3 linked regions of the Homo sapiens genome follow. The protein of the gene in region 3 interacts with the protein of the main gene of each other region in a biochemical or structural test. Each region holds a gene or a part of one and is shown on either strand. Other genes may lie near its edges. The genes, in order: ATAD3A, USP16 and DNM1L.

The links.
Region 1: the proteins of DNM1L (region 3) and ATAD3A form a complex in vitro, tested with the Homo sapiens proteins (one study listed by IntAct).
Region 2: the proteins of DNM1L (region 3) and USP16 form a complex in vitro, tested with the Homo sapiens proteins (one study listed by BioGRID).

The regions. Positions count from the first base shown.
Region 1 is NC_000001.11:1,504,388-1,515,597, forward strand, and holds the start of ATAD3A (ATPase family AAA domain-containing protein 3A), read left to right. Parts: upstream 1-7,774; 5' UTR 7,775-7,881; coding exon 7,882-8,086; intron 8,087-8,142; exon of another isoform or gene 8,143-8,303; intron 8,304-11,210. UniProt on the Homo sapiens protein: Essential for mitochondrial network organization, mitochondrial metabolism and cell growth at organism and cellular level. May play an important role in mitochondrial protein synthesis. May also participate in mitochondrial DNA replication.
Region 2 is NC_000021.9:29,039,702-29,050,524, forward strand, and holds part of USP16 (ubiquitin carboxyl-terminal hydrolase 16), read left to right. Parts: intron 1-907; coding exon 908-986; intron 987-2,311; coding exon 2,312-2,403; intron 2,404-2,770; coding exon 2,771-2,827; intron 2,828-3,721; coding exon 3,722-3,898; intron 3,899-6,965; coding exon 6,966-7,620; intron 7,621-9,059; coding exon 9,060-9,154; intron 9,155-10,390; coding exon 10,391-10,477; intron 10,478-10,823. UniProt on the Homo sapiens protein: Specifically deubiquitinates 'Lys-120' of histone H2A (H2AK119Ub), a specific tag for epigenetic transcriptional repression, thereby acting as a coactivator.
Region 3 is NC_000012.12:32,715,080-32,725,902, reverse strand, and holds part of DNM1L (dynamin-1-like protein), read right to left. Parts: intron 7,261-10,823; coding exon 7,140-7,260; intron 5,240-7,139; coding exon 5,108-5,239; intron 3,477-5,107; coding exon 3,270-3,476; intron 1-3,269. UniProt on the Homo sapiens protein: Functions in mitochondrial and peroxisomal division.

The sequences.
Region 1 (11,210 bases), on a different chromosome or scaffold from region 3:
ACCTGTAATCTCAGCTCTTTGGGAGGCCGAGGTGGGCGAATCATCTGAGGTTGGGAGTTCGAGACCAGCCTGACCCAACATGGAGAAACCCCATCTCTACTAAAAATACAAAATTAGCCGGGCGTGGTGGCGGGCGCCTGTAATCCCAGCTACTCAGGAGGCTGAGGCAGGAGAATCACTTGAACCTGGGAGGCGGAGGTTGCGGTGAGCCGAGACCACGTCATTGCACTGAAGCCTCAGCAACAAGAGGGAAACTCTGTCTCAAAAACAAAAAAAAAAAGAGAGAACAGGAGTGTGGTCGACTGCTGGGCCTGCCATAACCACTGGGGCGTGTGTGCCCACAGCTCTGAAGACTACAGGCCCAAGGTCAGGGTGCCAGCTCAGTCCCTCCCTGTGGAGTGTTCTTTGCTGGGTCCTCATGTGGCGGAGAGAGTGACTGAGCTCTCACTCTGGTGTCCCTTACAAGGATGCTCATCCTGCACTGCTCACAGTGGTGGTGGTAAGCCACCGCGCCCAGTGCCAACTTTGTCCTTCAACAGTTTGTGTGTGTGTGTGTGTGTGTGCGCGCCAGGCACAGTTGTAGGATCCAGCTCCACAGGTTCGGTGGGTTTTCTCTTTGTGTGCAGAGACAAGAGAGTGTAGAAATAAAGACACAAGACAGAGATAAAAGACAGCTGGGCCCGGGGAACCACTGCCACCTAGACGTGGAGACCGGTAGTGGCCCCGAGTGCCAGGCTGCGCTGTTATTTATTGGATACAAGACAAAGGGGCAGGATAAGGAGTGTGAGCCATCTCCAGTGATAGGTAAGGTCACGTGGGTCACGTGTCCACTGGACGGGGGCCCTTCCCTGCCTGGCAGCCGAGGCAGAGAGAGGGAGGGAGGGAGAGAGAGAGACAGCTTACGCCATTATTTCTGCTTATCAGAGACTTTTAGTACTTTCACTAATTTTGCTACTGTTATCTAAAAGGCAAAGCCAGGTGTACAGGATGGAACGTGAAGGCGGACTAGGAGTGTGACCGCTGAAGCACAGCATCACAGGGAGACGGTTAGGCCTTCGGATAACTGTGGGCGGGCCTGACCCTCCACAAGAGGTGGAGGAGTAGAGTCTTCTCTAAACTCCCCCGGGGAAAGGGAGACTCCCCTTCCCAGTCTGCTAAGTAGCGGGTGTTTTCCCTTGACACTGACGCTACCGCTAGACCACGGTCTGCTTAGGTCACGGGTGCCTTCCCAGGCGCTGGCGTTACTGCTAGACCAAGGAGCCCTCTGGTGGCCCTGTCCGGGCGTAACGGAAGGCTCGCACTCTTGTCTTCCGGTCGCTTCTCACTATGTCCCTTCAGCTCCTATCTCGGTATGGCCTGGTTTTTCCTAGATTATGATTATAGAGCGAGGATTATTATAATATTGGAATAAAGAGCAATTGCTACAAACTAATGATGAATGATATTCATATATAATCATATCTAAGATCTATATCTGGTATAACTATTCCTATTTTATATATTTTATTACACTGGAACAGCTCGTGCCCTCGGTCTCTTGCCTCAGCACCTGGTTGGCTTGCCACCCACACACAGTGGCTCATGGCTGTAATCCCAGCACTTTGGGATGCCAAGGTGGGTGGAGCACCTGAGGTCAGGAGTTCGACACCAGCCTGGCCTAAATGGTGAAACGCTGTCTCTACTAAAAATACAAAAATCAGCCAGGCATGGTGGTGTGTGCCTGTAATCCTACCTACCTGGGAGGCTGAGAGGCAGGAGAATCACTTGAACCCAGGAGGTGGAGGTTGCAGTGATCTGAGATCGTGTCACTGTCTTGCAGCCTGGGTGACAGAGTGAGACTCCCTCGCAAAAAAATAAAATAAGTTTTTTTTTTCCCTTTGGCAATTCAAGATCCCTAGAGGTTCCATATCAACGTATTAATGCTTTTTCTATTTTTGTAAAAAATAATTCGGGTTTTACAGGGATTGCATCCAGTCTCTATATTGCCTTGACGTCTCTTAGCAATGTTGTCTGGTTTTCTTTTTTTTTTTTTCTTGAGATGGAGTCTCACTCTGTCACCCAGGCTGGAGTGCAGTCGTCGGCCAGGATGGTCCCAAACTCATGACGTCAGGTGATCTGTCTGCCTTGGCTCCCAAAGTGCTGGGATTACCGGCGTGGGCCACGGCGCCCGGCCAGTTTTCATTGTACAAGTCTTTCACCTTCTTGGTTAAGTGAATTTCCAAGTATTTTATTCTTTCAGATGCTATTGTAAATGGAAATGGTTTCATAATTTCCCTTTCAGATTATTCATTGTTAGTATGTAGAATTGCAGCTGTTTCTGCTGTTGATTTTGTTTCCTGTAACTTTGCTGATGTCACGGGGTTGTTTTTTCCAATATGGATTCTAGGATTTTCTTTTTTCTTTTTTTTTTTTTTTTTTGATATGGAGTCTCGCTCCGTCACCCAGGCTGGAGTGCAGTGGCACAATCTCGGCTCACTGCAAGCTCCGCCTCTTGGGTTCACGCCATTCTCCTGCCTCAGCCTCCTGAGTAGCTGGGAATACAGGCGCCTGCCACCATGCCCAGCTAATTTTTTGTATTTTTAGTAGAGATGAGGTTTCACTATATTAGCCAGGATGGTCTCGATCCCCTGACTTCGTGATCTGCCCGCTTCAGCCTCCCAAAGTGCTGGGATTACAGGCGTGAGCCACCGCCCGCGCCCAGCAGGATTCTAGGATTTTCTACATATAAGATTATATCATCTGAGAACAGGTGATTTTACCTCTCCCTTTTCAGTTTGGATGACTTCTTTTTCTTCTCTAATGGCCCTGGCCACAACTTCCAGTGGTATGTGGAATAGAAGCAGTAAAGCATTCTTGCCTGGTTCCTTACTCAGAGGAAAAGCTTCCAGTTTTTCACCACTGAGTATGTCACCTGTGGGCTTGTGATATATGGCCTTCATTATGTTTAGGGCGTGTGTTTCAATTCCTGGCTTGTTGAGTGTTTTTCTCATAAAAGGGTGTTGAATTTGGTCAAATGCTTTTCCTGCGTCAGTTGAGAGGGTCATGTGGTTTCCTTCTTCCACTCTGCTAATATTGATTGCTTTTTGTATGTTGAACATTTCGTATGTGGAACATGATTTTCGTATGAACTATCCTTGCATTCCAGGAATAAATCCTGCTTGGTCAGGGTGTATAATTTTTTTATTATACTGCTGAATTCACTTTGCTGGCATTTTGTTGAGGACTTTCCCAGTGATGCTCATCAAGGATATTGGCCTGTCATTTTTCTTGTGGCATCTTCATCTGGGTTTGATATCAGGGTACTGCTGGCTTCCTAGGATGAGTGAGGAAATGTTCTTCAATTTGTCCAGGAGTTTGAGGAGTGCTCTGATTCTTAATGTTTTGTGAATTCACATGTGAAGAAATCAGGTCCAGGTCTTCTCTTTCAACTTTTACAGCTTGGAGATTTTAGGTTCCCAGAAAAATTGCAAGGGTAGCACAGAGAGCTCCCGGGCCTGGGGCCTCGCCACGTGGTGAACGTCATGTGTCACTGTTGGCCCCACCCGCGACTGGGTCTTGCCCCAGAATCCCACCCAGGAGGCCACGTGACATTTAGCTGTCACTTCTGGTGGGCTCCTGCCAGGTCCCGTGCTTCCCAGAGGGGTGGCCCCGTGAGCATCTGCGTAGCCCCTTTCCTCTGCTGGGCCCTGGGTGAGGTGCAGCCACTCGGGTGGACCCTGAGGGTCCCTGCACCTGTTTGCCCTCTCTTGGGTGGGCTCAAGACCAAAAATGATGTTGAGCAGTCCTGGGCCCCTGAGCCACAGTGGCGGTACGGCTCCAGTCAGTGTCTCCTGCGCTCCTGGGCCCCTGACCCACAGTGGTGGTCCAGCTCCGGTCAGTGTCTCCCCACACAGTGGCTCTTGGCGAGGGATGGGCGCTGGCAGAGGGGACGGGCACCACGTGGTCATCCCCATGGCAGGTTCTATCGTGGCGACGGTGTTGTGGGAGGATGGTGTGCTGCTGCCCCTGCACCCCGTGAGATGAATCCTGCCTCTGGGAGGCATAGCTGGGATGGGGCTAGGGACCCGCTCAGCTGTCCGGGAAGGGTCCCCTGCCCTGTGCTTCCTCCAGGCGTCCTGGTGCCCTCCTGAGCACGGCGCCCAGTGGGGGTCCCCACACCCTGACCCTGACCCACGGGTGACTCCCTTTGGGGACTCCATGCCCTTTTCTGGCATTAGGATGGAGAGTGACCTGTCTGGCAGAAAGGCTGGACCTGAGGCTGCCTGAAGCGACACCGAGGGCCACAGCCCCAGCAGCTCCAGCCTTCACATGCTAGATGCCAAGCCCTGTGCCCAGGAGGACAGGAAGGTGGGGCAGGGGTGGCCTTGGTGCCACCAGCCACGTGCCTCAAGGTGGGCAGTGGCTGCCTCTGCCCTGGAGGCCTGTGAGGGTCAGGGTCTGAGGGTCTGAGGTGCACTATGACCCGGGGGCACTGCCTGGCCACGGCTGAGACACGCAGAGGGTCTGCAGTTCCCACCTGCCTCTCGGAAGCTGCCCTGGGTCGGCCGTCAGTGAGGCTCCGCCTTGGGCTTTCTATTATTAGAAAGTCATTGAGCAACAGCAGTGCTGAGGACGCAGGCAGGGCTGTGGGCACTGCAGGGGCTGCCCCCGGTGTCCACACACGTGCTGGGCTCTGCCGAGGTGCGGGAAGCCTGTGTTTCACGCTCAGGCCATCCTGGAGCCCCTGGTTTGGTCCCTCCCCACCTCGGGGCCCTGGCGTGCATTTGGGGTGGGGGGTTCCCATGGCGGCCTCCCTCAGCTCCCTCTCTCCCCACTAGGCCACGGCGTATGCCTCCGAGGACGGGGTCCTGACCGAGGCCATGATGGACACCCGCGTGCAAGATGCTGTCCAGCAGCACCAGCAGATGATGCGCTGGCTGAAGAGGGGGAGGCCTGGGCCCGAGGACGAGCAACCCTCATCCTGAGTCCATGGGGAGACCACACCTCACGGAGCCTGGCCGCGGACCCCTCCCACCCCTGCCTTTGCGGCCCCGCACATTTAGGAAATACTCCCCGTAATAAAGTCCCACGGGGGCCGCACCGCTGTGTCTATTGGCTGGGGCGGGGTTTGGGGCCCCCTAACGTCCCCCTGGGGTCAAAGGTGACAGAAAAGGCAGAAGCTGGGGCTTTCTGGAGGATTTAACCACAGAGGGGTGGGCTGCACAGGAGGTGCCTGCCACGGCAGGGCCGGGTGCCCGTGCCCCATCCTGAGGCCGTGCATACGCGGGTGCCCTTCGCCTCCCTCCCCTCCGCCAGAGCTGCCTGTGGCCAGACACACGGTGGAGGGAAGTGCACGCGAAACAGACACAGCGGCTTCAAATAGATGCCGCCCCTGCCCGCGCTTTGCAGCTAGTCCCTGCAAACCTTGATGATGGGGCTGGGCGCGGTGGCTCACGCCTGGAATCTCAGTGAGGCCAAGGAGAGTGGATCACCTGAGGTCAGGAGTTCCAGACCAGCCTGGCCAACATGGTGAAACCCCATCTCTCCTAAAAAAAAAAAAAAAAAAATTAGCCGGCCGTGGTGGCAAGTGCCTGAAATCCCAGGTACTCAGGAGGCTGAGGCAGGAGAATCACTTGAGCCTGGGAAGTGGAGGTTGCACTGAGCTGAGACCATGGAATTGCACTGCAGCATGGGCAACAAGAGTCAAACTCCCTCTAAAAAAAAAAAAAAAAAAAAAAAGGGCCAGGTGGCACATGCCGGTGGTCCCAGCTTCTTGGCTTGGAGGCTGAGGTAGGAGGATCGCCTGAGCATGGGAGGCAGAGGTTGCAGTGAGCTGAGATCGCACCATTGCACTCCAGCCTGGGTGACAGAGTGAGACCCTCTCAATAAATAAATAACCAAAACCTTGATTACAGCCATGGGGTGGGGGTGGGGGGACGTCTGGCTATTGCTGGGGAAGTCATTTGGTTTTTCTCCTCCTCTCCTATTTTTTTGGTACAGACGGGGTCTCTCTTTGTTGCCCAGGCTGGTCTCCAACTCCTGGGCTCAAGCAATCCTCCTGCCTCGGCCTCCCAAACTGGCGGGGTTACAGGCGTGAGCCACCGCGCCTGCCCTGTTTTCTTTTTCTTTTTTTTTTCTTTTCTTTTTTTTTTGGCGATGGAGTCGTGCTCGCCCAGGGTGGAGTGCAGTGGCCTGATCTCGGCTCACTTCAACCTCCACCTCCAGGGTTCAAGCAGTTTTCCCGCCTAAGCCTCCGGAGTAGCTGGGATTACAGGCGCACGCCACCATGCCCAGGTTAATTTTTGTATTTTTGACAGGGGTTTCACCATGTTGGCCCGGCTGGTCTCAAACTCCTGTTTTCAGGTGATCTGCCCACCTCGGCCTCCCAAAGTGCTGGGATTACGGGTGTGAGCCACCGCGCCTGGCCGGCATTTTCTGGCTTTTTTTTTTTTTTTTGACAGAGTCTGACTCAGTCGCCCAGACTGGAGTGCAGTGACGAGATCTCGGCAGCTCACTGTGTTATATGTAAATTTTCTGTGCCGCCAAAGAAGTAGAACTCGAATATAAATTTTTCTCAGCTAGATAATTTACTTCTATAGAAGGGGACATCTCATAGATGGAGCAATGGCGAGCGCTTGGACAAGGGAGGGGAAGGGGTTCTTATTCCTGACGCGGGTAGCCCCTACTGCTGTGTGGTTCCCCTATTGGCTAGGGTTAGAATGCACAGTCTAAACTAGTGCCCATTGGCTATTTTAAAGGGAGCAGGAGTATGGGCCAGAGTGGCGGGGTGAGTGGTTTGGCGGGAAAAATGGTTATGGGACAGGTAACTAAAGGTGACTCAGGTCAAAGCAGGAGACCGGGATTAGTTAGGACGGAGCAGGTGACCAGGGCAACAGATGTCAACTACTGACTAGAACTGGTGGAAAAGGTTGTTTACTGAAACTGCGAGGAAGGTAGACTTTAAAATGCAGGACAAAGACTGAACATACTGATATACTGATTCTTTGAAGGGAAGTTTAGAACTCATTGTATCTAACATTATTCAGGCTTAAAACAGTTTCCAATCCAGTGGGAAAAGTCACTCCATATATTCCGTGAAGTCAACCAGTTCCATCAAGGAGAAAGTCAGGGCCGCTGGGAGCGCGTGGACCGTGGGCTCCGGGGCGGCGCCTGCCCGGGCACCCCGGCCCCGTCCACGCCCCGCAAGAGGAGCTCGCTGGCCCCGCCACGCGGGAAGGGGTCGCCCCGGGGTCTTGGGCGGGAGGGCCGTGCGGGCTGCGGAGACACCGAGGAGGGGAGGCGCCTCTCCTGAGCTCTTGGCGCAGCGACCCCAGGGCGCCGACTCATCGCGGAAGGGCTCGGCTTGCCCGGGCGCCGGTGCCGCCTCGGGTGAGGTTCCCGCGAGACTCTTCTCTGCGTCCTGGACTCACCGCAGGGCGCCCCGCCGCACGGATCGAGAACCTTGGGGCTCCCTGGAAACTTGCCACCCGCTGCCGCCAAGGCCGGAACTCCTCGGAGCCCCTAGCAACGGAGCCCCTAGCAACGGAGCCCACGCGGATGCGGCGCGGGGCTGACGCTGCCTTGGGTTCGCCTACGTCCCTCGGGAATTTTGTCCCGGCGTGGCTCCCGTAGCCAGATGCTTCGCCGCTCCCGCCCCGCTGGCTCCCAAAGCCTGTTCGGCAGTCGCGGCGCCGTCGCTATGGCGTCACTGTCCTCGGGGCCAATCCAAGGGCTGCGCGCGTGTCCCTTACGCGCTTCTATCGCCGGGAGGAAGGGGTGTGTGTGGCGCCTGCGCAGTGGCGGTGACCACCGGCTCGCGGCGCGTGGAGGCTGCTCCCAGCCGCGCGCGAGTCAGACTCGGGTGGGGGTCCCGGCGGCGGTAGCGGCGGCGGCGGTGCGAGCATGTCGTGGCTCTTCGGCATTAACAAGGGCCCCAAGGGTGAAGGCGCGGGGCCGCCGCCGCCTTTGCCGCCCGCGCAGCCCGGGGCCGAGGGCGGCGGGGACCGCGGGTTGGGAGACCGGCCGGCGCCCAAGGACAAATGGAGCAACTTCGACCCCACCGGCCTGGAGCGCGCCGCCAAGGCGGCGCGCGAGCTGGAGCACTCGCGTGAGTGCGGCGGGGCGGGGCGGCGCGGGCGGGCGGGCGGGACGGGCCGGGGAAGCGGGAGCCCTGGCCCTTGCCGCTCCTCGCCGCTGTCGGCAGCCACTTCCCGGGCGAGACTGCGCCCCCGGAGCACCCCCGGCCGGAGCCGTGTCGCGTGCCGGGAGGATCGGACTCTTTCCGTCACCCGTTTGCACCTCTGCAGCTGTCAGGAGCGGGTCAGGTGCGGAAAGCGGTGCGGAGGTGGCGCTCATAGGTTACAGGGGTCAGGGTCTGGGGCTGGCCGTGGTCTTCAGTTACCGCCGAGCGTGCGGGATCCTTCTGCGCTTGCCGCCTCCACGTGGCACAGGCCAAGGCGTGGCCAGATGGGTAGATGGGTTTGTTGGGTGGTTGCTAGCAGTTTCCACGTAACAAGGGAAGCGTATTTGAGAGTTACTTGATTCTAACGAGACTAGCAGATTTGCACTTCTTGTTGGAAGACGTTAGCATTTGCACGGCGAGGTCTGTGAAGCCACAGGCCAGGCCGTGCTGCTCAGCTTGAGTAAACCCCTGACCCAAGGCCCTCAGGGTGTGAGCACTCACCATGTTGTTCAGGCTGGTCTTGAATTCTGGCCTCAGGTGATTCGCCCACCTCGGCCTCCCAAAGCGCTGGGATGACAGGCGTGAGCCGCTGCTCATGGCCTTCCTCGGTAATTTTAACCATCAGGTTAGGATGGGAATCAAGGGCTGGACTTCAGGGCACCTCGGAGGACAGCGGATGTTGGTGACTGACTTTCTTGCTGCAGGCTTATTTGGAGGGTTCCTTTGTGTCCTAGTTCCTGGGGGTTTTCACCCGCTAACTTCACTTAGAGATTGAAACTTCTCCCACTTCCAGAAGCTGAATCGTAGTGATCAGCCTGCGGCCCCCTGCAGTGGTACAGGCCTGGTTGAGCAGCCTCAGGCCGCCTCCCCATAGTGCAGACCTGTGCCTCTGAGTTGCTCCAGTCCTGGCGGCCCCGGAGCTCCTGACCCGCAGTCCGCTCTGCCGGCGTTGCCAGTGCCTTGGTCTGCCCTCTCTGTGGTGGAGCGGGGCCCGGGGCAGGGTCTCCAGGTGCACCGTGGGGAGCCCTCCATCAGGCTTTTGTTTCCTGTGGATTGTGTTCCAGGTGTGGGCTCTTTCATTCTGATCCCTTCCCTCCTTCCTGGCCTCACTGCTGGCAGGTGAGAGAGGTTTCTCCAGAGTTGACTGCCCCCTTTCCCCGGGTGCCCCCTGCCCTGCCCCTCTGCCTGGTAGCCCCTCTGCAAGCCCGGCCCCTCCCGACGCTCCTGGCTTCCTCCGTGCCCCTTTCCTGGCAGCGGGTCGCCGAGATTCGGCCGGAGCCCATTGCTTTGTCCTTGCTGCTCTCCAGGCAAACGGGCGGCTCCTCCTCACCGACTGCCTCCTCTGTCCCTTGAGGCTATAGCCCCATGCCGCCTGGTTCCCAGAGTGCCCTGACCCCTCCTCCGGCCTGTCCTTGGAAGTCACAGCAGTACATTATCCCAGAACTGTCTGTGAGCACCAGCGCTCGCCCTGCACTCCACAGAGGGGGTGCCTGGAGGAGAGCCTCGTGCCCTGTGGGTGTGAATTCACGCGCTGGGACGCACGTCCCTGGCACAGGGTCACACCAAAGTGGTGAATGATTGTTCTCACTCTAATAACCGAGAGGCCACACGGGCACCTGACCTGCTCTTTCCCCTCTCCTCCTCCCCAGAGTCACTGGGGGTAGGAACTGTCAATGAGCCATTTTCAGGGGAGGGAGTGGCCTCAGCTTAATCCAGCCAAAGGTCCCCTCGGGAGGAAACAGGCAGAGCTCCTCACCGTGACACCCACGTTCCTGTCACTGCTCTGTGGCAGGACCCTGGGTGACTGACACACCCTCAGTCCCCTCGGGGTCAGAGTGAGAGTGGTTGAGAGCCCGGGGTCGCTTCAGCCCTTGGCTTCCCGAGCTTAGCAGCCAAACCCGTTGACCTGGCACTGTCTTCCCTGAGAGGCAGGTCCCGGTCTCATCTGTGCTCTGTTCACTGGGGCCCCCGAGGTTAGCTACCAAGGCGCTTCCTGAAATCTGACACTGATGCCCGTCAGCCCAGTTCGTGCCTAACCACAGGCCCAAGCAGACCCACCCCAACACCAAAGCGTCGCTGCCTCTGTCTAAATGCAACGAGTGCTCCCCACGGCACTTCCCCCTGCGTCAGTCACCTCCAAAAATTACACCTGAGCTGAGAACAGACGCTGGGCTCTAGTTAGTGACGTGTTTGCTGCAGTTGACTCTGAAGGCTTAAAAAAGTGAGACGGGCTGCGGGAGGAAGAGAGACGGGAACAACGCACCAACCCAGGAGCATCGGGGGTCCCTGCCTACTTTACGTGTCTTTCTGTGTTAGCAGATTTATATGTTTATTTATTTATTTGAGATGGAGTTGCCGTCCGTCGCCCAGGCTGGAGTGCAGTGGTGCAACCTCGGTTCATCGCAACATCCACCTCCTGGGTTCAAGCAGTTCTCCAGCCTTGGCCTCCCAAGTAGCTGAGATCACAGGCGTGCACCACTGTGCCCTGCTCTTTTTTTGTCTTTTTAGTGGAGACAGGGTTTCGCCATGTTGGCCCGGATGGAGATTTTTCTTTTTTAAGTCTCTCTCTGTCTAGCTGGAGTGCAGCGGTGCGATCTGGGTTCACTGCAGCCTCTGTCTCCGGGGTTCAAGCCATCCTCCCACCTCAGCCTCAGAGTAGCTGGGATTACAGGCGTCCGCCACTGCGCCCAGCTAATTTTTGTATATTTAGTAGAGATGGGGTTTCACCACATTGGTCAGGCCGGTCTCTAACTCCTGGACTCAAGTGATCCACCCGTCTCAGCCTCTCAAAGTGCTGGGAGTACAGTAGTGAGCCACCGCGCCCAGCCAAAAGATTTTTATGGTAAAGTTTTATGATGGGAAAACTGTCATCCCAGAAAATTTTGAGACCTGATGCTGAGGCCTCAGCAGCTCAGAGAATACGTACTTCTGTCCCACGACACCCAAACATCGACCTGTGTCAGTTCCCCTCTAGGAACAAAACGTAACTGAGGACGTTGTCAGATGCTTGTCCTCGTCACCCTGAGCTTGTTGGCTGGTATCCTATTCT
Region 2 (10,823 bases), on a different chromosome or scaffold from region 3:
GCTTTTTCAACTAGTATGTTTTCACCATTAGAATGAATCCAGAGAATTAGCAGTAATTCTCTTTCTCATGATGGCTTAAGTTTAGTTGATGTTTACAGCATTAATGTTCTTTAAAGATTCTGTTGTACTAACCTATACGAAGAGAGCTGCCAAATATTGGAAATTGTTTCTCCCAAACCCAGGTGCAGCACACCCTTACTTTTAATTCTGAGTCTGATTTAATACTGTTTTTTGAACCTAGGAAGTATTTTCATTTTGTAAGAGTCAGGGAACATTGGTTGCATTTTAAAATTTTTGTTACTTGCCAGGATATAAAAAAATGTATTTGGGGTATGAATTAATGAGTACTAATAATAGTGATAATAACTAATATTTATTTCGCACTTATTTTTATGCCAATCACTGTTTTCAGTGTTTTGTATTAATTCCCTTACTTCGTTCTCACAAAGTTTCTGTGAGGTGGATACTGTGATTTTTTCCTATTCCATAGATTGAGAATCTAGGCTGTAGAGAAGTTCAGTACCTAGTTTAAGGTCCCCCAGAAATAATGGAGCTGGGCTTTAAGCACTGGAGTCAGACCCTGTGGCTGTCATGTAATCATTGTGCTTGTAGGACAAGCTATTTCAGTTTCTTCTCAAAGGTGGTGGGCATGTTCTGAAAACCTTTGGCTTGAAGAGGTTTAAGATCTTGAAATGATAAGATAATACCTTTATTCAATGGTTAGTGATTGCTTTGTGACATAATTCCTTTTTAGCTCCTTGAATTAAGTTTGAAAATGTGATTTTGGAATTATTTAGTAAATATGGGGAGCTGTATCCTGATCACTTTCTTGACTTGATTACATATTTCTAAGGAAAATAAAATTTAAAATTTAATAGTATATATATATCCATTTTATTACTTTTAGAGAGTGAGTAAAGGAATACTTAAAGCATTTGGTAATTCTACTGAAAAGTTGGATGAAGAACTAAAAAATAAAGTTAAAGGTAATGTCTGACTTTTTGAACTAAAACACTATAGTTGAATTCCTCTGTACCTTAGGACAAGATTGCTGGCACATATATTTCCAAGTCCACAATTATTAATGTATAATTTCTCTTTATCAACGTTGATTAGTAAAAATTATTCAGTGCTCCAGAAGTGAACAGTTTTACCCCATGGTGTATTCTTTTTATGTATTAAAGATAGAACTATGATGAATTACAGTTTTACTTTTCAAAAGCTTAAAATTATAATTAGCAGTAATACATGAATTATATTTGTTACTGTGAGTTGTCAGTAGTTGGTTTATTAATCATGGAGCCAACTTAGTTCTTATTATGTGGCGTGTAAAGATTTAGGGCAGATCTGCCCAGTAGAACTTCCTATGTTGATGGAACTCCTCTATACCTTTGCTGTTCCATATAGAAGCAACTAGGCACGTGTGGCGCCTGAAATGTGACTGGTGAAACTGAGGAACTACATTTTTATTTTTATTTAATTGTAATTAAATTTAAATAGCCGTAAGTGACTAAGGGCACTGTATTATAAAGCACAGATTTGAATCAACTCATAGCAACTCTTTGCCTCCTTGGTGCCCTTTAGAGCCTGGCCAGTAATGGAGAGAATTACCCCTGCTGGCATTTTCTGTCAGAAAAGTGTGGTTCTGCATAAATTATCATTTGAATAATGCTTATAGGTTTCACGTATTTGGAAAATTGGCTGATCAAGTAGTAAAATTATGGCTTTTAGTTATATTAAACTTATCAAGATTATTTCTGGGAGCATAGGAAAATAAAAGGAAGATTTTGTTTGAAATATTTTCCTGAGGTTTTTCTTTTGTTTTTAAAATATCAAAGGAGTTCAGTCTTAGAGTTCACAAAACAAGTTACATGCATTTTCTCTCCCAGTTTGCTACTCTGGTATCTTTTATCAGTCTTGAATGTTAGAATGTTAGAGCTAGAACTAAGGAACTAGGCTGTCATTCAGCCTACTCTGAGCTGTTCATTTTATACTAATGGAGAGAGAGAGAAAGACATAGAAGTCTCACTGACTTGCACAGTTTACTTCCCACTGACTAGATCTTGGATAAGGACTTTTTTGTCTTATTCATAAAAGGCGATTGTGTTCAATTATGTTATGCTCAGAGGTGGAATATATAATACTGACTTCTATTGCTTAAAAAAGGTGATTATGAATGGAGGAAGAAGTCTGTGGGACAGGAAATTTAAAATAAAATTTTAGAGTTAGATAGGTAAGTAGTTTTAGCTTTTCTTGTTTAATTAATTATATAACGGTAATTGGTAATTGATAGACTTTTTTTTCTCCATAGATTATGAGAAGAAAAAATCAATGCCAAGTTTTGTTGACCGCATCTTTGGTGGTGAACTAACTAGTATGATCATGTGTGATCAATGCAGAACTGTAAGTAGATGTCATGTATACTGGGTTTATTTGCTAATATTCAACAGTTTATCAATTGTTTATTTCAAAAGCAGAAATCTCTACCTTCATAGGATATCTTTTTAAACTATTCAGATGCTATTCAGATGTGCATGGTTCTTTGTGGGAAATGTCAGCACTCCTTAAATCTTGAAGACGTTAAACAGTTTGATTTATTTCCCCCAACCCAAAGTCCTCAATGTTGTGTAATTTTTCATTTCAAATTTTCTTAAGCCTTTGTTTATTTTAAAACCCATCCCCTACTCCCCATCCCACAGGGCAGGGAGGATCTTACTATGTAACATTTACAGTATTTACATTTTTACACTGTCTTTTCTGATTGGTTAAGGTCTCCTTGGTTCATGAATCTTTCCTTGATTTGTCCCTCCCAGTTTTAGATGATCAGGTAAGACTATTGAATTTATTTTATTCAAGTAGATTTTTTTTCCTGTAAGATTTTGTGGGGGGAAGCCTTGTTACTCTTTTTAAGTTTGTATATTACTAGCCCATGCAGAAATTTTTCTTAATTTGAGGTAGAATGCATTTTAGGATTTGAATAAAGAACAGGGTAACTACTTTAAAAACAAGGATGGAAAAAAAGATGATGTATTCAGAATTCTGTACAAGTAATTAGTTTGATTGGTTTCCATACAGTGAAGTATTTTCCTTATATTAAAATTAATACTTATTTTTGTTATTTAAGACTAATCACGAATCCCTTGCACACCTAAGTTCATAAATGTTAAAGAGTATTATTTTGTTTTAATTTGGTTCCTTTTAAATAGTAGTAGGAAAAAAGAAGAGATGTTATGAGTATTGGATAAATCATTCTTCAACTTCATATGAATTATGAGACCCTTGGCTTGTTAACTTGGCAATTAAAGTCTCACCAAATTTTATTTTCTGTTTTTCTGAAACTGTCATATGCATGCAAAGAAAGAAAAGAATAAAAAAGAATACACCGTGGTGACTTACATAAGTCACTTAGAAAATGTATTTGGAAATGGACGTATTTACAGTGTGACACAGCATGTATCTAATAAATTTCGTTATATTTCTATTACACTTACATGTGATGTTGCCTTTTGCTGTTTTGTTGGTTTGCTTGTTTTCTCATTATGTGAAGATTGCTTTCTAGTGTATGAGATAAACGAATTTTGTCTCATCTATTTTCAAATATTGTGGAAAAAAAAAGCTAATACATAATAGAAGTAGAAAAATATTTACATAGTGTGGATTTTTTTTCACCAAATGGTAGTTGTAAAATTTTGTTTTTGACCTATGTTATCTATATTTTAAGAGTGGTAAGAAAAGTGTAAATGATAAAAATCTGAAAAAGACAGTGGAGGATGAAGATCAAGATAGTGAGGAAGAAAAAGATAACGACAGTTACATAAAAGAGAGAAGTGATATTCCTTCTGGAACAAGTAAGCACTTACAGAAAAAAGCAAAGAAACAAGCCAAAAAGCAAGCCAAGGTGGGTAATTAGGAGGAAAATCATATGCTTGTAATTTTATATTTTGAGCTATTGAGTTTGTAGTCTGAATGACATTGGTTAGACATGTCTGTTATTTTAGATACAGCACTTTCATTTGACAATTACAGAATTTAGCTCATTTAGTATTCTCTGCAGGGAAATTGCTTTGAGTATATGTGAAGAAAACGTCGTGCTTCTTTTTTTTTAAATCCTGCATTGCTTGTAACAAGTATTTGTAGTAAGTTTAATTAACTTAATTTTCGAGTTAATATTATTGACATCCACAAATTTAAAAATATATAAAGGTAAACAATAAGTCCCCCTCCCACCACTGTTTTTTTTTTCCAACCCGAGATGGAGTCTTGCTGTGTCGCCCAGGCCAGAGTGCAGTGGCACGATCTCTGCTCACTGCAACCTCCATCTCCTAGGTTCAAGCAATTCTCGTGCCTCAGCCTCCTGAGCAGTCAGGACTACAGGTGCATGCCACCAAGCCTAGCTAATTTTTATATTTTTAGTAGAGACAGGGTTTCACCATTGTTGGCCAGGCTGGTCTCAAACTCCTGACCTCAAGTGATCCTCCCTCCTCAGCCTGCCAAAGTGCTGGGATTACAGGCATGAGCCACCGCGCCCGGCCGACCACCACTTTCCTTTTATGACAAAGATAAACATTTTTGTTTTTTCTTACGTATCCTTCTGGAGTTTCTTTTGGAAAATATGAGCAAATACAAATATGCAGTCTTGGTTTTTTTCCCCCTTTCTCACCATTCACACCATTCTGGATTGTGTTGTTTGTTTATACTTAGATTCTTGGAGTCCTTTCCATTTTAGTATATAAAACTTCTTCATTCTTTTTTTTTTTTTTTTTGAGATGGTGTCTCACTCTGTCGCCCAGGCTGGAGTGCAAATGGCGAGATCTTGGCACACTGCAACCTCTGCCTCCCAGGTTCAAGTGATTCTCCTGCCACAGCCTCCCAAGTAGCTGGGATTACAGGCATGTGCCACCGTACCTGGCTAACTTTTGTATTTTTAGTAAAGACAGGTTTCGCCATGTTGGTCAGGCTGGTCTCTAACTCCTGACCTCAGATAATCTGCCCACCTCAGCCTACCAAAGTGCTGGGATTACAGATGTGAGACACCGTGCCTGGCCCATTCTTTCTTTCTTTCTTTCTTTCTTTTTTTTAACAGTTGCATGATTCTGTGTTATGGATGTGCCATAATTCATTTAACCATTTCTCTATTGATTTAGGTTGTTTCTAGTATTTTGCTATAATGGTGAGTGCTCTAGTGAATAACCCTACACATAAGTCATCTGTAGGGTAAATTTTGAGAAGAGGGATTGCATTTGTAGTTTTGGTTGATACTAATTGTCCTTCACAAAGGTTGCTCCTGACCCTTGACAGCTGTGTGTTATCAAACTTCCAGATTTTGATTGGTATGTTAGATGGAAAATATTATCTCAGTGCAGTTTTATTTTACATTTATTTTAATATAAATTAGATTAAGCATATTTTTATGTTTCAGAGCCATTTGCATTTCATGTTCTTTGAAGTTTTTGCTTATATTCTTTTCTTATTTTTTATTCATGTGTTCCTCTGTTTTTACGGAAACACATCAGAAAATGTTTGGTTCCCATCCTGTTTGCTGCCCTTCATTCTTCTGGTATTACAGAGTAGCCTCACAGGGGCTGTTCTTTCAGTTCTTTCTGTTACAACCAGAAATGCCTTTGGGTTTTTAGGCATTTCAGTAACAGGAATCTTGATGAAATGCCTTCTTTTCCTCTATTTGGAAGTAGGTTGCAAGTGGCAAGAGTGATTTTAAAGGGAAAAGTTCTTTACTCTCTTCTGTATGTGTGGCTACCTTGCTTCTTTGCTAACTTCAGGCCATTTTTTTCCCAGAATACTTTTGTCCATTCCTCTGACCAAAGCAGTCCTGTACTTGTGCATCCTTGAGTTTTCTTTCAGTTTGTTTTTTTTTTTCTCTCAGTGAAACCTTGACCCAGTAACTCATATGGATACATTTCTTTCTGTTAGTGTGGAGTCAGACCCACCGTGTGGTATAACATTTGACTGCCTGGGTTTAACAGTCTTAGTACTCTGCCTGGATTACTTCCCTTAGCACAGAGACCATGTCTTGCATATTTTTATTTCTACAGTAGGGTGGTTTTTTGATGGTTGGTGATGGTTTATTCCTGATTTCATTTAAATAACTTTTTCTTTCTTTTTTTTGGGAACAGAGTCACTTTGTTGCCCAGGCTGGAGTGCAGTGGTGTGGTCTCGGCTCACTGCAACCCCCACCTTCCATGTTCAAGCTATTTTCCTGCCTCAGCCTCCCGAGTAGCTGGGATTACAGGCGCGCACCACCCATGTGTGCATTACAGGCACGCCTGGCTAATTTTTGTATTTTTAGTAGAGATGGGTTTTCACCATGTTGGCCAGGCTGGTTTCAAACTCCTCACCTCAAGTGAGATGCCCTCCTTGGCCTCCCAAAGTGCTGGGGTTACAGGTGTGAGCCACCACACCTGGCCTAAATAACTTTTCTTCATAATTTATTTTTTGAGACAGAGTCTTGCTCTGCCACCCAGTTTGGAGTATAGTGTGCATGATCATACCTCACAGTAACCTTGAACTTTTGGGCTCAAGTGATCCTCCCACCTCAACCTGCTGAATAGCTGGGACTACAGGTGGACACCAACGTGCCCAGCTAATTTTTATTTTTATTTTTTTTTAGAGATGGGGTCTCAGTATGTTGCCCAAGCATGTCCCAAACTCCTCAAGTGATCCTCTTGTGATCATCTTGCTTTGGCCTTCCACAGTGCTAGGATTACAGGTGTGAGCCGCCATGCCCAGCCAATTTCGTCATAATTTTTTTGATCCTTGATAGCAAAGGAACTTTTTAGGATCAGATTGTGAGAGTGAACTCTTCCTTAGGAAATTATTTTTGATTGACAAGCAGCAAAACTGGATATAGTACATGTGTGTGTTTTGTCCTTCTTCCTCTATCTCTCTTCCTCCTTTTCTCCCGCTCTTTCTTTTTCTTTATTTTTTGATGCCGTATACTTTTTACCCAGAACCAACGAAGACAACAAAAAATTCAAGGAAAAGTTCTTCATTTAAATGATATTTGTACTATTGACCATCCTGAAGACAGTGAATATGAAGCTGAAATGTCACTTCAAGGAGAAGTAAATATTAAATCCAACCATATTTCACAAGAGGGTGTTATGCATAAAGAATATTGTGTCAACCAGAAAGATTTGAATGGCCAAGCAAAAATGATCGAAAGTGTAACTGACAATCAAAAATCCACAGAGGAAGTAGATATGAAAAATATCAACATGGATAATGATCTGGAGGTTTTAACATCTTCTCCCACTAGGAATTTAAATGGTGCCTACCTAACGGAAGGGAGCAATGGAGAAGTGGACATTTCCAATGGTTTCAAAAACCTAAATTTGAATGCTGCTCTTCATCCTGATGAAATAAATATAGAGATTCTGAATGATAGTCATACTCCTGGAACAAAGGTGTATGAGGTTGTAAATGAAGATCCAGAAACTGCTTTCTGTACTCTTGCAAACAGGGAAGTTTTCAATACTGATGAGTGTTCAATCCAACATTGTTTATATCAGTTCACCCGTAATGAGAAACTTCGAGATGCGAATAAACTGCTTTGTGAAGTATGCACACGGAGACAGTGTAATGGACCAAAGGCAAATATAAAAGGTATTTTAATGCTCTCACTGTAAGTAAAATTAATATTCAGGGGCACATTTTGCACTGCATAGGTAGAGTACTCCTAATTGTATCAGGATTTGGATGGCATGAATAAGTGTCCTTTTCTGTGTAAATATTTTAATAGGATGGAAAAGTAGGACTTTATTGAAGTGGCTAATACACTGTGACATCCCAGCAGCAGTTAAATGGGACAGTTTTCTCCCTGACATCTCTCCCTGTGGGTAAATTATCCCCTTGGAATGCAGTCACCACAGCATCCTGACACATAGTGGCTATTTTTTTCCACCCTTACCTCCTTTGCACCCAGGACGCCACACTTGAATTTATCAGTGAACTAATATGACATGCCCAGTGCAAAGCACTGGGAAGACAGTGCTTTCTTACAGTCTTCCTCAAATGGGAGAAAGGATCATACTGACAATTTCCCTTATCTCCCCATTGCTTTTTTTTTTGAGTTTGGGTAAATAGGATGTGGAGGGGCCATGGATTCCTAAGGATTTTTAGTAGAATTGTTGAAACATTTTAAAATTCTAAGTAGAATTTTATTTATTTACATATAGAGACAAAAAGTAAGCCTGTGTGTGTGTGTATGTATCTTATATGTGTGTGTATGTATATATATATATGTGTGTGTATGTATATATATATAAGCTCAGAGACTATACAAAAATAGGCTTACTTTTTGTCTGTATATATATCAGCTCAGAGACGATACGTGTGTGTGTGTGTGTGTGTGTGTGTGTGTGTGTGTGTGTGTGTGTGTGTTTTGAGACAGAGTCCTGCCCTTTCTCCCAGGCTAAAGTGCAGTGGCCAATTTCAGCTCACTGCAATCTCCACCTCCCGGGTTCAAGAGATTCTCCTGCCTCAGCCTCCCAAGTAGCTGGGACTACAGGCACCCGCCACCACACCTGGCTAATTTTTGTATTTTTAATAGAGATAGGGTTTCGCCACGTTGGCCAGGGTGGTCTCAAACTCCTAACCTCAAGTGATTTGCCCGCCTAGGCCTCCCAAAGTCCTGGGATTACAGCGTGAGCCATCGCACCCAGCCTAAAAAATATTTTTTATAGATGAGCATTTGCAAATGATTTGATGTGATGGAATATACTAAACTTTCAACCTCATTAACCAAAATATTGTGTCTCTCCACAGTAATTCAATTTTGCTCTGATTGTAATCATTCTCAGTTATTACTGTATTTTGATTTCATCAGTAAGAATTTATGGACATTTTAATCTCATAAATACCTATAAAATATCTTTGATTTTGCCTCTTACTCCACAAATTCTACAATATTTGTTATCTAGTACTTCATAGAAAAAGTTTACTGATCCTTGCTTTAGATGTTTGGAATGATTTTATAGCAAATCTGAATGCTTTAGGGGTCTAAAATGATTTTCTCCCTGTTAAAAATTTCTTCTTTTCTTTAGGTGAAAGGAAGCATGTTTACACCAATGCCAAAAAGCAGATGCTAATTTCTCTTGCTCCTCCTGTTCTTACTCTTCATTTAAAGAGATTTCAGCAGGTACTCCTTGTTACCCAAAATTTGTTTTAAATATGTAACACCTACTTTATTACCTATTTTTTTCATTACTGTCTCAACATACTACTTTGTTTCTTTGGTTTTCTGTTGTTTCTTAACTGTAATGTCAATGAAGTCAGAAAGGGAAAAACATAGGGGCTAGGCAGAGGCGCATGTGAAGATGGAGGCACAATCTCCTCAGATTTCCTAGAACTCATTTATGTCCCTCTTTTTAGTACGATTGGCATCTTACTTTTATTTCAGGTTAAAAAAAGAAAAAGACTGGTGTGTTACATATATCTCATGCTTAGGAATATTAGTGATTTTTTCTGTTTTGTGTGTGGCATCTTGTTTTTACGGACCCTTGATAAAAAGACATTGGTGCCTTGGATTGTCATCATTTTGGTGACCTCATCTTTTCTGGAAAACTTTTGCTATAGCTGTATAACTTCTAAACTGTGTTGCAAATTCCGAAAGTACTTTCAGTATCTTCAGAACGTTTTGCCTCTTGTGGTTGGTATGGGCTTGACTAATTGGGTGGGCCTTTATTAACAATTCACTAAGCTTGGTTTGAGCATGAGGCTGAGAGCGTGTGTTTCACAGAAAAGTATTATGCTATCGCTGAGTTTTAAGCACTCAGAACCTGTGGTCTAATCTGGCATTTCTGGATGGCTGAAGCAGAAACATTGAGAATTTTCTCACGAGAAAAGTTGTTTTTCTTCTTTTTGAAACAGTCTTGTTCTGTCACCCAGGCTGGTGTGCAATGACACGATCATGGCTCACTGAAGGTTTGACCTCCCAGTCTCAAGCGATCCTCCCACCTTAGCCTCTATAGTAGCTGGGACTATAGGTGGCTACCACCATGTCCAGCTAATTTTTTAATTTTTTTGTAGAGACAGAGTCTCACAGTGTTGCCCAGGCTGATCTCGAACTCCTGGGCTCAAGTGATCCTCCTGCCTCAGCTTCCCAAAGTGCTGAGATTACAGGCATGTGCCATCGTGTCCAGCTGGGAATAGCTTTCTTAATGTGTTGGTGTGTGTTTTTTGTGTGATACATGTGTACTTAGCAAAAGCAAACCAACTTGGAATCAGTTAGTGTTCAGGAAGAATTGAGTCTCCAAAGAAAATTGAACTAGGACTTAATGTTGATATTCTTTTGGACGTCGGAGGGGACTTCGGTTTACTTAACCTGTATTGCTTTTCCAAGAAAAGAAGTCAATCTGTTATGCTTCTCTTTTAGGCTGGTTTTAACCTACGCAAAGTTAACAAACACATAAAGTTTCCGGAAATCTTAGATTTGGCTCCTTTTTGCACCCTTAAATGTAAGGTAAGTCAAAGTGGTCTTTTTCAGGAAAGTCCTTTAAAGTCAAATTGTGGCTTACCTAATGCTCCAGTAGCAACTCACTTAAGTATGAAGTTGATAACACTTATTGAGTAGAGTGGGTCTTTGATCATTGTACCTTTATAATTTGAAGATTAGTGATGAATCATTTTGAAGAATGGGTTATTTCAGTTCAACGTTTGGAATCCCCTTTATTATGGCATACATTGTCTTGTGAGCGGAGGGCATAAAACTAAAGGTGAGCAGATCTATTAATGAATAATCTGTTTAATGTGGTTGAATGTTAAGGCTGGTGAACATAGGTCAGGAGTGGTATACACTTAACCCAGCA
Region 3 (10,823 bases):
CCAGTCGCGGTGGCTCACGCCTGCAATCCTAGCACTTTGGGAGGCTGAGGCAGGCAGATCACCTGAGGTCAGGAGTTCAACACCAGCCTGACCAACATGGTGAAACCCCGTCTCTACTAAAACACAAAAATTAGCCAGGCATGATGGCGGGTGCCTGTAATCCCAGCTACTCAGGAGGCTGAGATGGGAGAATCACTTGAACCCGGGAGACGGTGGTTGCAGTGAGCTGAGATCGTGCCACTGCACTCCAACCTGGGTGGCTGAGCAAGACTCATCTGAAAGAAAAAAAAATTGGCAAGACAACTATATGGTTAAGAATTTAAGAACTTCCAGTATGACCACACCCAATAACTGTATTAGATTGTTAATGGATTATTGTGTTATAGGTGACATAGTTAACTGTAAAGTAACCTGACTCAGTATAGTTACTGGTACCACAGTGAGGTGAATAAAACAGGATTTTTCAGAAGTTAGCCTGAATTTCACTGTACTTTTAAATTTAACCTCCATTAACTAAGCATCTTTTCTTTGTGGTAGGGTCTACCTTCTGCTTCCCTGGAAAGGATGAACTTACATCATTTGACAAGACCTGTTTTCAAGTTATTTGTTGTTTGTTTGCTTGTTTTTGTAGCCTAAAATAAAAATTTCAAATACAATTTTAGTTCTTACAAGATGTCTTAATTTTGTACCAATTCAGGTAGAAGGAGAGGCCTAGCTTGAATTAAGGGTTATACTCAGTTTTTACCACATTATTGAAAAGGGTACCAGCTTTGGAAAGAGATACTATACTAATAAGCAAGTGTAAAAAAAAAGAAGAAGAAGAAGAAAATCTTCAGTGATACGATGCTTTAAAAAAAAAAATTAAAGTTCATTTTCTTTGGGGTAGAGCTAGAGAGAATGCCCCAAGCTTCTGTGTGGTTTCTTCTAATTCTTATTGCTTGAAGTATGAGTATGTCACTTACCCATGCTTCTGTTTACTATGTATTAAAATGTGTAGTACTGTTTACTTAACTACCTCATGGATGTGTTAAGGCATATTCAGTTAAATCTCATAAAATGTTTCTCATTCTCATTAAAAGCTCACATTTTGGGCCTATTTGTAATGCCAGTGTTGACACTCAGCATTTTGTTCACACCATGCTTTGACAACTAAACTGGAAAACAGTTATCAAACTAAACTATCAGTTAGTGATCTTTGTGTGGCTTCTATATATATTATTATATATATTATTATTTTTTATATATATATTAAATATTTAATTTATATTTAATTAATATAATTTATATATATATATATATATATATATATTTTTTTTTTTTTTTTTTGGAGATAGAGTCTCTCTCTGTTGCCCAGGCTGGAGTGCAGTGGTGCGATCTCAGCTCACTGCAACCTCCACCACCTGGGTTCAAGCGATTCTCCTGCCTCAGCCTCCTAAGTAGCTGGGATTACAGGCACGTGCCACCACGCCCAGCTAATTTTTGTATTTTTAGTAGAGATGGGGTTTCACCATATTGGCCAGGATGGTCTTGATCTCTCGACCTCGTAATCTGCCTGCCTCAGCCTCCCAAAGTGCTGGGATTACAGGCGTGAGCCACTGCGCCTGGCCAATGTGGCTCCTATTTTTATAGAAGTAGATGGATGCACTATTTCACAAGGTCCAACAATTTTTTTCTGTATGACTGCATAGTAGTAAATACTACAGGGATAGCACATAGTATTGTAGTCATGAGATTAAAGTAGAGATAAGACTATTTTTGACAAAAGATGCCATTAAATTTCAGACTGTAGTGCCACATTTACAATACCTCAGGCTAATTACTGTTAATTTTGAGGCAACTTTCTTTTGACGATGGCGAGGGTGGACTATTGGATTGTCATTAGAGGAAGGTCTAGATTTCCTGCTCTTAACAAAATTACATTGAATTCATTTTTAGAGGTGATGAAAACTTCCTTTTTGAGAAGTTAGTGTTCAGGTCTTGGAATGTGAACACATTGTTTGTAATGCTATCCATTCCTCTCCTGAGATTTTAACTTACTACTGGAAATCCTTAACCAATTATAATAGCTTTGTTCTATTTTCAAAATCATTTCCTTTGCTTTGATTAGACACTCTGTTTTTTTGTTTGTTTTGGTAGCCGTAGTTCATCTAAATGCAGCTTTTTCTGAACTTTAAAGATAGAATCCCTGTTTTTTTTTTTTTTTTTTTTTGAGACAGAGTCTTGCTCTGTTGCCCAGGCTGGAGTGCAGTGGCACCATCTCGGCTCACCACAACCTCCGCCTCACGGGTTCAAGCAATTCTCCTGCCTCAGCCTCCCAAGTAGCTGGGATTACAGCTGCCCACCACCACGCCCGGCTAGTTTTTGTATTTTTAGTAGAGATGGGGTTTCACCATGTTAGCCAGGCTGGTCTTGAACTGATGTCAGGTGATTCACCCGCCTCAGCCTCCCAAAGTGCTGGGATTACAGGCATGAGCCACTGTGCCTGGCCAGAATCCCATTTTTAACGAACTGAGGTAGCAAAATAATCTTTTTCATTCTTTTAGGAAATAGTTATTGCCAAAGTGAAGGTGTCGATAATACCTGGTCTTGTTATATAATGGGGATGTGGTTTGCAGAAGAATTTTCTTTATAAAATTGAAGTTTCAAGGGATATCAGTGTTTATGCCATTTTTCCAGTTCCAAAATTATTCCATTCCATTCTAGAAATCTGAAGTATGTAACTTGAAATCCTTAATAAAATTTGGATTCAATTAAAAAAAAAAAAGGATGGAATTTCAATATGTTGCCCAGGCTGGACTTGAACTCCTGAGCTCAAGGAATTCTCCTACCTCAGCCTTCTGAGTAGCTGGGACTACAGGTGCACACCAACATGTAATTTTGTTTTTATGTTTTATTTTTACTTATCTGCATTTTCTAATTTTTGTGAGCAATTATACTGTGTGTACTAAAGAAACAAACACTTTAAAAGCTAAATTATTTTTAAATACTTATTAAAATATTTAATACTTATTAAATACTTATAAAAATAAGTAAATACTTATAAAATATTAAAATATTTAAAAATATGTGACAATTTTACTTTGCTTTATATCATTTACAAAGCATATTTTCACACAACCAGACATCATCCTATTATCTCTACAAAGTTATATTTTTGTTTTATAGAAAATAAATCTTAATCAGATAATCTGAGCTGAAGTCATCTTCACAAAAGGAAAAGTGACCTAGCAATCTAGGTAACCAAATCTACAGAAAAATTTCTTACTTACAGCTCCGAAGTTTCAATATATTTTGCAGTTCCTTCAATAGTGTTACAATATTCTGTGGCAAATTTGGTAATAAGTTGGAGTAAAGTAGCACTTTTATCATCCACGGGTTCACCGTAGCTATTTAGAAGAGACTGATACTGAGCAGCTAGAACATTTATTCTTGTTTTCAACTCTGGTAAACAATCTCTGATGTGATGCATCAGTAACCTAAAAAAGGTTAGAAAGGAAGGATTTAAAAGTAAAATTGTGTATTCTAAAGCCCTAAACAAGTCAAATTTTTACAATGGGGAAAACCTATCAAATAATTTGTCCTGGCAAATGTGATACTGTGAAATATATATTTGGTCTTTGTCTTCATTTCCTGGCAGTCAGCTCCTAAAATCCTTGGACTCTCCAAGAGCATTAAGGGTGTTTAGAGTGTCTCTGCATGCTAATGAGATGACTGGTGGCTGGGGGTCCCTAGATAGCTTCAGGATGGGAGCTGGTCACCAGAACAGCCTCAGAAGAGAGGAGAGAGGCCAAACATTGAGCTGATCACCAATGGCCAATGAAGCTTCCATAAAAACTCAAAAGGACACAGTTCATGGAGTCTTCAGAGAGTTGAACACATGAAGGTTCCTGGAGTGTGGTGTGCCCAGAGAGGGCACGGAAGCTCCACATTCCTTCCCACATGCCCAGCCCTGTGCATCTCTTCATCTGGCTATTTATCTATATCCTTTGTAATATGCTTTACAGTAAGTGGGTATATGCTAAGTAGTGTTTCCCTGACCTCTGTGAGCCACTCTAACAAATTCATCAAACATGAAAAGGGGATCATGGGTACCCTGACTTATAGCCTGTCAGTCAGAAACACAGGCTACAACCTGTGCTTACAACTGGCATCTGACTTGGGGGCAGTCTTGTGGGACTGAACCCTCAACCTGTGGGCGCTGACACTATCTCCAGGTAAACAGTGTTAGCATTGAATTAAAGGACATTCAGCTAGAATCCCCTGGAGAATTCCTTGCTTGATGTATGGGGAAAACTCCCCATATATCTGCTCTCAAAAGCATTCTGTGCTATACTGATTAACTGTGTGTGAAAAGGAAAAAAACAATTTTGATTGGTTTTTCCTAAATAATAAAAGCAAGGAAAAAATGCAAATTATTTTCATATTACTGCAATTACCACAGAGAAAATAAGCCACCCAATCAATTCTTCCTATATAATTTTGGTTTCATTGACTTGTCATTTACAATTGGTACCCAGCAAAGTGAAAATCAACCTTATTAAGATCCAAGTCTATCAGTCTTTAGGGAATAAGATAAAAGTAAGAGAAAATGGCTTCCACTTCAGTCATTTATAAATCATCTAGAAAGGGCTTCTAGTCCCCACACATCAGTGGGTATTCAGAATCCAACGTATAGTTATTTCTACAGTGAATAGAAATAAAAGACATTCTATTTCTTTGTTTTTCCATCTCCCTTTCCTGGTAAATAAAACACATTCTAAGGTAAGAATAGATAATGTGAAAATTACAAATTTTAATCAGTTCCTGAAATGCAAAGTGGAAATGAAGTCATCTCTAGTTCTAGCCACAAAACTAAATTAACTGTCAAAATTTTCGTAATTAAAACATTTTAAAATCACTTGTACATTCATTCTAGACTACGTGATGATGTAATGTCAACCACCCCAATAAAAACAGAGACATCTACTCTTCAGGAACCTACTATATAAGAAACCATAAGTGAAGCTGTTAGGAACAGTATGAAAATGTAAGGAACTGAAAATGAACCCTCTCAGACACCAATTGGTAAAAACAAACACATCTCATTTCCAAAAGGTAAAAAAATTACCTGTTTAGAGTCCTAGCAAGATACTTTGTTCCATTTCTATTGGCCAGAGATGGATATTTCTTTTGAAGAAAAGCATACTCATCACGGATTGAATCAGTTACACTCTTCTTGTTGTTAATATCTAGCTGGCTCCTGAGGTTGAAAAAATAACGAAACTATTCAGCTTAACTGTTGTCCTCTTCCTACCTTAGATGATGACAGCACCAGGCATTGTTCTCTAATACCTGACAGGGACTGTTTTATTTAATTCTCACAATAATTTTATGTGGCAGGTATTATTACCCCATTGTATAGCAAGGAACTGAGGCTCACAAAAACTAACTTACCCCAGGTCACACACTAACTGGCATAGCCAAGACTTGAACTAAGTGAATTGTAAGTAACTAGTGCCTAAATAGAGTAGGCCTCATTATTACCATTAACTATAGACAAAAACAATAAGTAACAGGTATAGACAGGTATAAAAATATAAGAGTATCTTAGTCAACTGTATATTTTATCCATGGACAGGGAACTAATTTCTCCCAAAAATAATTAAGTTAACTTGAAGAACAATCATCTACAAACAACGAACAGTGTTAGGCCACCTCCTTACCTGAAAAAGGAGACAGCTGGAATTGGGAGTGGGGATGGGAGAATGACAGTGGGGATGGGAGAATGACAGTAGGGTTGGAATGGAAGGACATTAAAATAGAAGCAGACAACTGGAATGGATCTTATGTATCAGGCAGTAAAAACATTTTCATTTTCTAAAGGCTTGAGACCCAAAGACATTAGGTGTCATTTAAACCTACGTTGTATCTAGTTTATGTAAGAACTAGGACTATAACTCAGATTTCATGATAATTTCAGTGTTTCCTACCATATGAAGGCTTTGGACTAAAAGAGATATTCATCCGAATCCAGCTCTTTCACTACCCACGTGACTTTTGGTTAAATGTATAACCTGAGGTTTCTGATTATAAAATAGACATCAACACCTACCTCAGGGGATGCTGTGAGGATTCCAAGAGATACCATTTGCAAATTGCTCACAGTAGAGTGTCTAAAACGTAATTAGACACTCAATAATAATTTCCTTTTCCCGATTTTTAATACCAACTATTTATAATTAGGATACCTTTAATAAAATTTCTCCAAGTCACATCCTGGCAATTACACAGAATCACTAATGCTAGGGATTAAACCAATCTATTAAAATCTTGTCACCTTTAATTAGACACTCAATACTAGTTTCCTTTTCCCAGTTTTTAATACCAACTATTTATAAATTAGGATACCTTTAATACAATTTCTCCAAGTCACATCCTGGCAATTACACAGAAGCATCACTAATGCCAGGGATTAAAACCAATCTATTAAAATCCTGCCACCTTAAACTCTTTCTCGATTGGGTGCACATTAGATAATTTTTCCCTTACCCAGTACCTCCTCATACATAGCTTAACATGATAGGCAAGAATTCTTAAAGCCTGGCTATTACAACATTTCTTCCATTTTGTGGTATTGCTTACTTTAGAAACATTTTCCAGTAAAAATGTCTATGGGGCAGGCACAGTGGCTCATGCCTGTAATCCCAGCACCTGGGAAACCAAGGTTGGAGGATTGCTTGAGCCCAGGAAGTCGAGACAAGCCTGGGCAACATGGCAAGACCTTGTCACTACAAAAAAATTTAAAATTAGCCAGGTGTGGTGATACACACCTATAGTCTCAGCTACTTGAAAGGCTGAAGTGAAAGGATCACTTGAGCCCAGAGGTTGATGCTACAATGAGCCACAATCACGCCACTGCATTCCAGCCTAGGCAACAGAGAGAGACCCTATTTCAAAAAAAAAAAAAAATTCTCTCTCTTTTCTCCCTTTAGGGCAACGGATTCTTTAGCAATACCAAGATCATAATAAAAGGGAGAAAAAATATAGTACAGCATCACATTTCAAACAGATTTTAGAAATTCAGACTTGCTCTGAAGTGAGAATGCTTATCCCATTCTAAGAATGCTTATCCCAATTCTTATCCCATTCTAACTGCTAACCTGTTAACTACTCCAATTATTCCAAGTTTGACTGGAATAACCCTTCCCATCAATACATCCATGGCATCAGTACCCGCATCCATGAGATCAAGTTTAGTGATTACAGCTAGGGTTCTGCGACCTGGTAAATGCAAAAAGAAAAAAGGGCAAAGAAAAGAAAGAAAATGATCCATTAAATACAACTATTTAGTGTTAATAAAGGAAAACCCTCATCTACAATCCCACTTAGTATTACCTCTGTCATCATTTTGGTAATGCCTTACTTACCAGTGCTTTTTTAAAAATAATGTTAAACATTGTGTATAATTTTTTAAAACATTTTTGCCGGGCACGGTGGCTCACACCTGTAATTCTAGCAGTTTGGAAGGCCAAGGCGGGTGGATCACCTGAGATCAGGAGTTTGAGACCAGCCTGACTAACATGGTAAAACCCCATCTCTACTAAAAATACAAAAATTAGCCAGGCACAGTGGCAGACGCCTGTAATCCCAGCTGCTCGGGAGGCTGAAGCAGGAGAATTGCTTGAACCCGAGAGGCAGAGGTTGCAGTGAGCTGAGATCGTGCCATTGCACTTCGGCCTGGGTGACAGAGCAGGACTCCATCTAAAATATATATATATACTATACATATAAAATATATATACTATATTATATATAAAATATATATAGTATATATATAAAATATGTATAGTATATATATAAAATATGTATAGTATATATAGTATGTATAGTATATATTTATAATATATATACTATATATATTATATATACTATACATACTATATATACTATATATAATATATATACTATATATACTATATTTTATATATATATAAAATATATACTATATTTTATATATATACTATATATAGTATATATAAATATATATAGTATATACTATATATAGTATATTTATAAAATATATATAGTATATACTATATATATTTTATAGTATATATATTTCAGTTACAAATATATATATCTACCTAGGTATATATATTTTTTATATATATATCTACCTAGGTATATGTATTTTTTATATATATATCTACCTAGGTATATGTATTTTTTATATATATATCTACCTAGGTATATGTATTTTTTATATATATATCTACCTAGGTATATGTATTTTTTATATATATATCTACCTAGGTATATGTATTTTTTATATATATATCTACCTAGGTATATATATTTGTAACTGAAAAATGCCATAGGTAAAATTGTACACTATGCAGAGCAGGACTCCGTCTAAAATATATATATATACTATATATATATAATATATATACTATATATTTAAAATATATATAGTATATATTTAAAATATATATAGTATATATTTAAAATATATATTATATATTATATATACTATATATTATATATAGTATATATATTATATATACTATATATAATATATAGTATATATAAAATATATAGTGTATATATAATATATAGTATATATAAAATATATAGTGTATATATAATATATAGTATATATATACTATATATACTATATATAAAATATATATAATATATACTATATATTTTATAGTATATATAAATATATATAGTATATACTATATATATTTTATAGTATATATATTTCAGTTACAAATATATATACATAGGTATATATATAAAATATATATAAATATATAAAATATATATATAAAATATATATATATACCTATGTATATATATTTGTAACTGAAAAATACCATAGGTAAAATTGTACACTATGCAGAGCAGTTGGAACTCTCACACGTTGCTGGTGGGAGTGGTGTAGTCATTTTGGGAAACAGTCTGGCAGTTTCTTATAAAGTTAAATTAGCAGTCCCATTCCTAGGTGTTTAACCATGTTAAGTGAGAACCAGTGTTCATATAAAAAACTATATGCAAATATCTACAGCAGCTTTATTCATAATTTTCAAAAACTAGAAACAACTCACATATTTCTCAGATGGGTAGTGAAATACCTATGGTATTTTCAGTTACTATATATATATATATATATATACTATATATAGTGTATATATACTCTATATATAGTATATATATAAAATAGATTTTTTTCACATGTAATTTTTTGTTGACTCTTAGGGCTATTTTGTAAGCATTTCAAAAATCTGTATAAAATTTACATCCAGGTGATATGGCCCATGCCTGTAATCCTAACACTTTGGAAGGCCAAGGCAGACAGATTGCTTGAGCCCAGGAGTTCGAGACCAGTCTGGGCAAAGTGGTGAAACTCTGTCTCTACAAAAAATAGAAAACGTAGCAGGGTGTGGTAGTCCTAGCTACAGGTGAGGCTGAGGTGGGAGAATCACCTGAGCCCAGGTCAAGGCTGCAGTGAGCCGTGATTGCACCACTGCACTCCACCCTGGGCAACAGAATGAGACCCTGTCTCAATAAACAAAAAATAAAAATATTTACTCTTTTTTGGTGTACAGTTCTAAGAGTTTTGACAAATGCCAAGAGATATGTCACAACCAACTCAAGACATTGCCACCCCCCCCCACCAAATTTTCTTATGCTAACCAATCAAACCAGTTTTCCATTCCTAGTTTTGCCTTTTCTAGAGTGTTATATAAACGAAATCAGATAGTACATAACCTTTTGAGTCTGGCTTCTTTCATTTAGCATAATGCATTTGAGATTCATCCGTGTTCTTGTATATTAATAGTCCATTCCTTTTTATTGCAGAGTAGTGTCCCATTGTATGGAATGTACCATACTTTAGTTTCACTCCCCATCTGAGGAATATGTGAGTTGTTTCTAGTTTTTGAAAATTATGAATAAAGCTGCTGTAGACATTTGCATATAGTTTTTTATATGAACACTGGTTCTCACTTAACATGGTTAAACACCTAGGAACGGGACTGCTAATTTAACTTTATAAGAAACTGCCAGACTGTTTCCCAAAATGACTACACCACTCCCACCAGCAACGTGTGAGAGTTCCAACTGCTCTGCATAGTGTACAATTTTACCTATGGTATTTTTCAGTTACAAGCATTTTTCTTTTTTTTTGAGACTGTCCTACTCTGTTGTCCAGGCTGAAATGCAGTGGCACAATCTCGGCTCATTGTAACCTTCGCCTCCACAGTTCAAGTGATTCTCATGTCTCAGCCTCCCCAGTAGCTGGGACTACAGGCATGCACCACCATGCCTGGCTAATTTTTGTATTTTTAGAGAGATGGGGTTTCACCATGTTGGTCAGGCTGCTCTGGAACTTCTGGTCTCAAGCGATCCGCTCACCTCAGCCTCCCAAAGTGCTGGGATTACAAGTGTGAGCCACCATGCCCAGCCTACAAGCATTTTTCTGTACTGCTACAAATCTACAAAATCATCCTTTTTAATTATTTCATATTTTATTATTATAATTTACTTAATCTTTCCAACTGCTGGCCATATTAAGTTGTTTCTAATTTTTTATACTATAAATAATACTGGGCTGGATTATTTCCTTATGATGTATTACTAGATTATGATTAGTAATCAAACCAGGTGCAGTGGCTCACTCTTGCAATCCCAACACTTTGGGAGACTGAGGTGGGAAGATCACTTGAGCCCAGGACTGCAAGTTTGCAGTGAGGCATGATTGTGCCACTGCACTCCAGGCCTGGGCAACAGAGTGAGACCCTACATCCAAAAAAAAAAAAAAAAGATTAGATTAAAAA